Linked DNA regions of Homo sapiens: region 2 is linked to region 1. Evidence: fine-mapped expression QTL. A gene starts in region 1. The other region holds a variant in brackets. All regions are shown on one strand. Distances are from middle to middle.

What was found. PIP is the estimated chance that this variant, and not a neighbour inherited with it, causes the effect.
Region 2: its variant is fine-mapped to the expression of NARF in whole blood (TOPMed, PIP 0.97).

Annotation. Positions count from the first base shown.
Region 1 is chr17:82,456,148-82,460,531 of GRCh38, reverse strand. It overlaps NARF (nuclear prelamin A recognition factor), which reads right to left and starts at 1,791. Exons shown (of 11, transcript NM_012336.4): 1 at 1,702-1,791; 2 at 460-540. The coding sequence starts at 1,728. It overlaps NARF-AS2 (NARF antisense RNA 2), which reads left to right and starts at 2,013. Exons shown (of 3, transcript NR_184099.1): 1 at 2,013-2,859; 2 at 2,984-3,094. RefSeq lists enhancers at 1,037-1,869, 2,303-2,452 and a silencer at 1,453-2,272.
Region 2 is chr17:82,478,854-82,483,237 of GRCh38, reverse strand. NARF (nuclear prelamin A recognition factor) reads right to left here. Exons shown (of 11, transcript NM_012336.4): 6 at 4,320-4,384; 7 at 2,027-2,156. Among named protein-coding and RNA genes, the nearest start is that of TRX-CAT1-8, 14 kb to the left of the region's middle. The variant C/T (reference allele first, on the strand shown) is at 1,644.

The sequences.
Region 1 (4,384 bases):
CGGCCTCCCAAAGTTCTGGGATTACAGGCATGAGCCACCACGCCTGGCCTATTTCAGTCTTTTTTTTGGGACAGAGTCTCACTCTGTTGCCCAGGCTGAAGTACAGTGGTACAATCTCAGCTCACTGCAACCTCTGTCTTCCAGGGTCAAGCAATTCTCCTGCCTCAGCCTCCTGAGTAGCTGGGATTACAGGCGTACACCACCATACCTGGATAATTTTTGTATTTTTAGCAGAGATAAGGTTTCACCATGTTGGCCAGGCTGGTCTCAAACTCCTGACCTCAAGTGATCCGTCCACCTCGGCCTCCCAAAGTGCTGGGATTCCAGGCGTGAGCCACCATGCCCGCGTACTTCAGTCTTCTTTAAAGCAGTGATGTGCACGGTGCTGTGAGCCCCCAAAGAGAAAAACAGCAGCAGTAGTTTACTCTGGGCTGATACAAAACTGAAAAATCTACTTGCCTCTCCATTTTCCTGGGCTGGACTCGGTGCATCGGCTGACACATTCTCTTGGTCATCAGTTTTTGTTTTCTTACTACATTCCTTAAAAAAGCAAAGGAACATTATCAATGAACTTTTACTTCGTCTCCCTTAAGAAAATGTGCACATTCTGACCAATGAAGCTCATGTATTTCTATCCTTTCTTTTAGTTTATTTATTTATTTTTTTAGACGGAGTCTCGCTCTCACCCAGGCTGGAGTGCAGGGGCGCAATCTCGGCTCACTGCAGCCTCCACCTCCCGGGTTCAAGCGATTCTCCTGCCTCGGCCTTCTGAGTAGCTGGGATTACAGGTGTGCGCCACCACACCCAGCTAATTTTATATTTTTAGTAGAGACTGGGTTTCGCCATGTTGGCCACGATGGTCTTGAACTGCTGACCTCAGGTGATCCACCCGCCTCGGCCTCCCCTCCCAAGGTGCTGGGATAACAGGCTTGAGCCACCGTGCCTGGCCTTCTATCCTTCTAACCCTTCTAGTGAAACAGGTACTGAAGGACACACACACATCTCTATTGTTTACAATAATAAAAAAGCAGAAGCAACTGTAGCCTTCACCCCACAGGCGAATTCCCCTGGACACAGGTGTACTTAGAATAGGACGCAGCCACCACCGGGGATGAACGACCCATGGAATGTTAGGAAGCCTCCTGCCACGGCGTCACGCGCAGAAGTGCCAGCCACAGAGCAGCATCCACAGGAGCCCATTCCGGCAATAACAGCTACAAAACCCCCCTGCGTGCGCTGCGCGGTTGTTGCCATGGCCTGGAGACAACCGCGGAAGGCGCCGGTCAGCAGCCGTCACCCGCTTCCGCCCCTGCACCGGCTGCTCGGTGACCCTCAGAGGGGCAGGTTCGAAAACGCCTAAAACCCTCTCGAAACGCTTCTGATCATTCCCGCCACGACCGCTGTTTACTCGGACTGTGGTGCGCGGCACGAGAGGCTCGGTCTCCGTGCGTTTCCGCGCTTCGCGGGCGTGGGAAAGATGGACAAGTTCAGGGAGAACCGCGAAGACCGAACCCGCCCTGCAGAGCGCAGCGGACCCCGCGCCGGCCGCCTCCACGCCGAGCGGGCCCAGGGTGCCGAGGCCGGGGGCGCCTTGAAGAGCCCTGAAGCGAGCGAGCGGCGGGCCCGGACCGCCAACCTCGGCCGCCCAGAGCCCCACAGGACAAGCACCAGGCGCGCGCCTCCCCGGCCCGCGGCGCTCACCTTGCGCGTGCAGTGCTCACACTTCATCTGGAGCGCGGCGGGCGGGAGGCCGGGCGCCTCAGCCTCAGGGAAGCACCGGGAGACTGGGACACCACTGCCCGCCGCCCGCGGCCCTTTGTTGTCCTCCCCCGACGCGGCCTCACCCCCAACGGCCGCGCTCGGCCAATGAGAGCACCGGGAGAGGACAAGCCGCACCCCTGGGCCAATAGGATTCCCCACCCTTACGGCTTTGCCTAGGCCAATGACAGTGTCGGGAAGGGGCGGGCCAGGCCCCAGAGCCAATCGGAGCGCGCGGGGCGGACCGCAGGCTCACTCCACGTACGGCGCCGGGGGGACCGGGTCCTTGCGCCGGTTTCCGCTTCTCGTGGGTCCTGCGGCGGCGGCGGCGGCCAAGCGGCGTTCACCAGGGAGTCGGTGAGCGCGCGGACTGTCCCGAGGCCAAGCTGGGGCCGTTCCAGGGTGCTCGGTCCGGTGGTCACGGGGCCTGGAGGCCCCTGGGCCCGCGGAGGCCGCGGCCGGGCTCTGTCAGCCAGCTCGGCGTTGGACACTCGCCTTACTCGCGGCTCCTAACGGGGCGGGCCGGGGGCACAGCCCTCGTCCGCCGCCATTGCCACTTGACGTCGTGTCACGTAGGCTCGGCGGAGTAGCAGCGCGCATGCGCGGCCTGCCTGTCAGTAACCACGTGATGGACCCGGAAGCCCGAGGGCAGATGCTAAATGATGGCCATTTGACATTTGCGTGTGTTCACTATGGATAGTTTTACCAAGTACATTGATTTGGGCCCTTACAGCTTACAAAGTAAAGATAACACTTACTCCTCCAAGAAATTGATTTCAGCTAAGCAAAACATTGATACAGGGCTATAATGGAAGTGTTGGACTCATAAACGTTTTATGAAATCAGTGTGTGTGTATTACAGAAATCAGAAATGAGAAGTAAGAACATGTCTGGGAGAGTGTGACATAAGAAAAATAACTTGTAGGCGTATTTAACAGACAGCAGCAGTTCTCAGGATTCCCCATGTTAGAGCCTTCCTTCCTGTCCTCTGAGAAATGAAAATGAAATCCAAAGACCCCCAACTGACTACACGAACCCCCTACTGGCTAAGGAGATCCCAGGGTTGCCTTGAAGGCAGTTCTCAGCCATGACAGATGGGAGGTGAGACACCTGTTATTAAGGCCAACCCTTGGCTAACTACCATTAGGTTTTCTTGGCTAAGAGCTTAACGGAAACCAGCGCTTTCGAAAGACTCCACCGCTGATAACAACTCTCTCATTTGCAGTTTCGGCCCAATTGACCAGTATTCCTTACTGATAAGAGACACTGACCATGGAGTGGTTCTGGTGAGATGACATGACCCTCGTGAAGGGGCCTGAAGCTTCATTGTGTTTGTGTATGTTTCTCTCTTCAAAAATATTCATGACTTCTCCTGTAGCTTGATAAATATGTATATTTACACACTGCACCTCATAGATTCCTGTTCCCTTTGCCCCTCCCTGGAAGTGTCTGTTTCTGGCTTCTGGCCAGAGGCAGTGCTTCCCTGTCTGTCAGAATGGCCACCCTGCAGGCTGAAACCCTTTATGAGAAGTAAAGCTCTCCTTTCCAGATTTATGAATCTCATCATTCTTCAGCTTGCCATTGCCCATCGGGTTCTTCCTGCCCACTGCACAGACAAAAAGTCAATTCATCAAGATTGCAGCAGGCCGGGAAAAGAGTTTAATTGACACCTGGCAGGCCACACAGGAGACAGTTACTACTCAAATCAGTCTCTCCAAAGGCTCAGCAGTTAGGAGTTTGTTTTTTGTTTTTTTGTTTTTGTTTTTGAGACGGAGTCTCACTCTGTCACCCAGGTTGGAGTGCAGTGGCACAATCTCGGCTCACTACAACCTCCACCTCCCAGGTTCAAGCGATTCTCCTACCTCAGCCTCCTAAGTAGCTGGGACGACAGGCACACGCCACCACGCCTGGCTAATTTTTGTATTTTTTAGTAGAGATGGGGTTTCACCATAATGGCCAGGCTGGTCTTGAACTCCTGACCTTGTGATCCGCCTGCCTCGGCCTCCCAAAGTGCTGGGATTACAGGCATGAGCCACCACGCCTGGCCGCAGTTAGGGTTTTTATGGACAATTTGGTGGGCAGGGGGCTAGGGAATGGATGCTGCTGATTGACTGGGAATGAAATCAAAAGGGTGTGTGGAAAACGGTCCTCAAGCACTGAGTCTGCCTCTGGGTGGGGCCACAGAAACCAATTGAGTCCTGAGTAGCAGGTTGGGGTGGGTTCACTCTGAAAAACATCTCAAAAAGCCATTCTTAGGTCCTGCAATACTGATATTATCTATAGGTGCAATTCGGGAAGTTGCAAATTTTGTGACCTCTGGCCACATGAGTCCTGAGCAGTGAGGGACTGTAGAAACTAGGCCTGCATTTTAGCAGAGTTCAGGCCACTCCCACAATCCTAACCTTGTGGCCTTTCATTAGCTTTACAAAGGCAATTTCAGCCCCAGAAGTGGGAGGTGATAGTTTTAGGAAGGGACTATTATCATCCTTGTTTCAAGGTTAAACTGTAAATTCCTCCCAAAGCTCCTAAAATTAGCTTGGCTTATGCCCAGGAACAACTGGACAGCTTGGATGTCCAAAGGAAGACGGAATTAACTGTGTGAAATTTCTCTGTCTTTTTTTTTTGA
Region 2 (4,384 bases), 23 kb before region 1:
AAGTGATTCTCTTGCCGCAGCCTCCTGAGTAGCTGTGATTACAGGTGTGCACTACCACGCCTGGCTAATTTTTGTATTTTTAGTAGAGACGGGGGTTTCACCATGTTGGCCAGACTGGTCTCGAACTCCTGACCTCAGGTGACCAGCCTGCCTCAGCCTCCTGAAGTGCTGGGATTACACGTGTCAGCCACTGCACCCAGCCCTTTTTTTTTTAAGAAACAAGGTCGCCAGTCTAGCCAACATGGCGAAACCCCCTCTCTACTAAAAACACAAAAATTAGCCTGGTGTGGTGGGGCGCACCTGTAATCCCAGCTACTCGGGAGGCTGAGGGAGGAGAATCGCTTGATCCTAGGAGGCGCGGAGGTTGTAGTGAGCCAAGATGGAGCCACTGCAGAGCCTGGGTGACAGAGTGAGACTCCGTCTCAAAAAATAAAAAAAAAGAGACGAGGTCTCACTGTGTTGCCCAGCAAGGTCTCAAACTCCTGGGCTCAAGTGATCCTCCAGCCATAGCCTCCTGAGTGGCTGGAATTAGAGGTCTGAGCCATTGTACCCAGCTACATTTATATGACAATTGTTTATTCTGCAATGAGATCAACTGAAAGTGAGAACCACTTTCTGTATTTCCTTTTACATGAGGATGCCTGAAAAAACCCTTAATAGAAAAACTGAGCCTCTAAAACTATGGCTGTGGCATCACATTAGATGCTGTGAGATGGCTGGAAACACAGGTAAGAAAATAGCGTAATTTCCTATAAATCTGCACTCAGAAAAAAGATGGCTGGACATGGTTCTTCTGACAGCCCACCGCGCATGTTTTATTTTGTCAACGTAAGCAGATGGCCCCTGGGCCCTTCCTCTGAGAGTGAAGGATGGCCGTGCTGAGGACCCTTCTATCCCTCATCCTTCAACACCCCTGCCACATCACCCCACAGGGAGCCTGTGCCTATGGGGTGGGGACCTTTCCAGAGGCGTCTGCGTGCTAGAATTTCAAGTCAGGGGCCTGTGAGGGACATTGGCGCCCTTAAAGATTGTCCCTGAGAGCTGACCTCTCTGCCTCATCTACCACTGATCTAAATACCTGCAGGGACCTGTTTTCAGAGACCAATTAAAACAGTTCCGCCAGAATTTTAACAAAGTCTTAAGCTTCCCCCACCAACTGATGTCAACATTCTTCTGAATGGGTTCTACATAATTCCAGGGAATCACTTCCATCCACAACACACACAGAACTCACTGTAGGCTCTTAACATCTGAAAGGAGTGGCCAATACCGTGGTAAAGGCAATATCACTGGAGCAAACGTGCCTTTTTCATTTTATTCTGAATGAAAAAAACTTCACTTGTGTTTTAAGTGCAGACTTGGTTTGTGATTAGGAGACCCGCTATGGCTATAGACAACTTTCCCACCAAGAGATAAGTACCTTACATGGACTGTAATGTAAAGTTAGGGCCACCACACTGCCCAAGTGGTTCTCCCAGGACCTGATTTATCTTTTTTTTTTTTTTTTGAGACAAAGTTTTACTCTTGTTGCCCAGGCTGGAGGGTAATGGCGCGATCTCGGCTTACTGCAACCTCTGCCTCCCGGGTTCAAGCGATTCTCCTGCCTCAGCCTCCCGAGCAGCTGGGATTACAGGCATGTGCCA[C/T]CATGCCCGGCTAGTTTTTTGTAGTTTTAGTAGAGACGGGGTTTCTCCATGTTGGTCAGGCTGGTCTCGAACTCCTGACCTCAGGTGATCCACCTGCCTTGGCCTCCCAGTGCTTAGATTACAGGCGTGAGCCACTGTGCCCAGCTGAGACCTGATTTATCTTGAGGAAGATGCACAGAGGAGACAGGAGGCTAGATCGAACATGACCCTTCTCTTCACCTGCAGTTAAGCCCCTAGGACCCTCAGCTGTCAGTAACTTCAGACAAGCGACCACATTGGCAGGCACTGAGATGGCTCTGGGACACAGATCTGCCTGGCTCTGGTGTGTACTGGCCAGTAGGAGATTACCCCAGCGCCCAGGTGCACCCCCGCCCACCTCTCACCTGATGTTAACACGCAGTCAGCGCCCCGGGAGCCATGCAAAGCAGGGGGAAGGCTTTCCTGAAGAGCCTCCAGCTTCTTGTCATAACAAGGGGCCACAATGACGTGGAAAATCTTCTCTGGAGACAGGTTCTGTGGGAGAGGGGCACCCATATTTAGGGCTGGTGAAGAGGTGACGGCAGCTTACGCTTGGTGCCCAGAACAAGAGGGATGGGAGACCGAATGCCCCCTGCTGCTGCCCTCCAGACACTGCATGCTGCACTCTTTTTTTTTTTTTTTTTTTGAAATGGAGTCTTGCTCTGTCACCAGGTTGGAGTGCAGTGGCGTGATCTCAGCTCACTGCAAACTCTGCCTCCCGGGTTCAAGCGATTCTCCTGCCTCAGCCTCCCGAGTAGCTGGGACTACAGGCGCATGCCGCCACGCCTGGCTAATTTTTTGTACTTTAGTAGAGATGGGGTTTCACCGTGTTGCCCAGGCTGGTCTCAAACTCCTGAGCTCAGGCAATCTGCCCGCCTCGGCCTCCAAAGTACTAGAATTACAGGCGTGAGCCATCGAGCCTGGCTGCATGCAGCACTTTCTTGGGGCTGGGACTGTTGTGGGTCTGAGGCCGGGCCCCACAGATGAAAGTGCTGTAGCCACATCTGGCTCCCATCCCCTCTTCAACTCTACCGAGCACCAGCACTCCATCCATGTCTGTCTGCTGCCTCCCTCAGGACTGGGTGTGGTCCTCCCAAACATCTGCAAAGCCCCCCAGCCAGTGGAGCCTCCTGGAAGAACCGGGAAGGCTGAGCCCATTTCCTCCTGAACCTGTGCACATGGGGACAAAACAAGTAAGAGGAAGTCCAGCCGGCGTGGAGCTGTTGCTGGTCCAGCATGGAGCCATTGCAGGAGGCCTGAGTGAGTGTGTGTGTGTGTGTGTGTGTGCGCGCGCTGGCTACTTCACCCACAGACTTTCCTGAATCTTCCCAAGCGATGCCCACCCAAGCTACCCCTCTCCTGGGTCCACACAGAGCAGGTGCCTGTGGCTGGGCCTGAACTGGTGGCAAAGCCAGGAGCCAGCAGTTGCCAAGTGACCCTGTGGTGAGGTCTGGGTGGAAAGGACCCACTCAGGGCAGGGGCGGAGCAAAAGAGGAAACCCGCCCCTGGTTGCAGCTGTGCCAGGTGGTCAGGTGAGAGGCTGCTGGAGGCCGGGTCTCTGCGGCTGCCCCTCATGGCACCTACAGGAGGACACATAGCTCTGGGCTCCATCCAGGGGAGAGGGCAGCACGTGGAAGACCTAGAAACACATGGCTCTCTTCAGGTGGGGGCAGGGCAAGGGACAGAAAGTCCCATAGCTCATTTTTCGGTCCTGCCTAAACTGAACGTGTATACTCTGACATCATGTTTATAATTTGCCAAATTATGACTTTATGGGTAGAAAGAAACTAGATAGAAGGAAAACACTGCCTATTGCTAAAATAACAAGGCTGCCAAATGTGCGTGCCTTTTTAGGCTGACTTCAAATGTCTGAAAGATCCTGATGTTACCCTCTACTCCAGTTACCACAGTGCCTGGACATGGCTGCTTCCCCGGAGGGAGGTGTAAAGTCTGATTGAGAAGAGCAGTGTGGGGCATGCCAGCGGCTGGAGAATAAACCATGGGATTAGGGTCCCTTTGAGGGTGGCCTTGGAGACATCAGGGAGTTCTGGGAGGACCTGGGGGCCGCAGAGGGTTGTGGGAAGGGAGAACACGACGGGCCGAGGCAGGGGGCACGCAGGAGCCTCAGGCCGGGACTCACTCCATCAAGAGGAGGACAGCATCATGGCCACTGTGGAATCTCACAGAAGTGGCTAAGGAAGTCATGTGATGCCCGTGGTCTGAGGGAAAGGCCAGGGCAGAGGCCAGGTTTGGCTCCCTAAATGACAGCTGCCCTCAGCCTCCAGGCACAGGCCACTTTAGGCCTCCTTGGGTGAGGCATCCCAACAGCAGGCAGGCAGCATCTCTGGGCAAGGTCCGGGGCCTCATTCTCAGCAGGGTGGGCAGCATTTCTACTCTACCCCGAATGGGCCCAGGAAAACCACCAGATGCCACAGAAAAGGTTAAGAAGAAAGAAAAAGGTTGTAAGAGGAAGGGAGGAATAGAGACGGGCGTTGGTGAGAAACAGCACTGCTGATGTTTCCTGAAGCCACAGCTTCCTTTTTGCTCACCTGGGGGGCCGTGACCACGCTGGACAGATGGGGAACCTCCCCTTCCTGGGCCCCTGTGCCATGGTCCTCCCTCACCTGCCCTTCCTGCCCTCCAGAGAGGTCAGCTTACCTGCTGTCTGGCGAAATAATCCTTCACCAAAGAGCCCATGACCTGCTGGGGGGACTTGGCGGTGC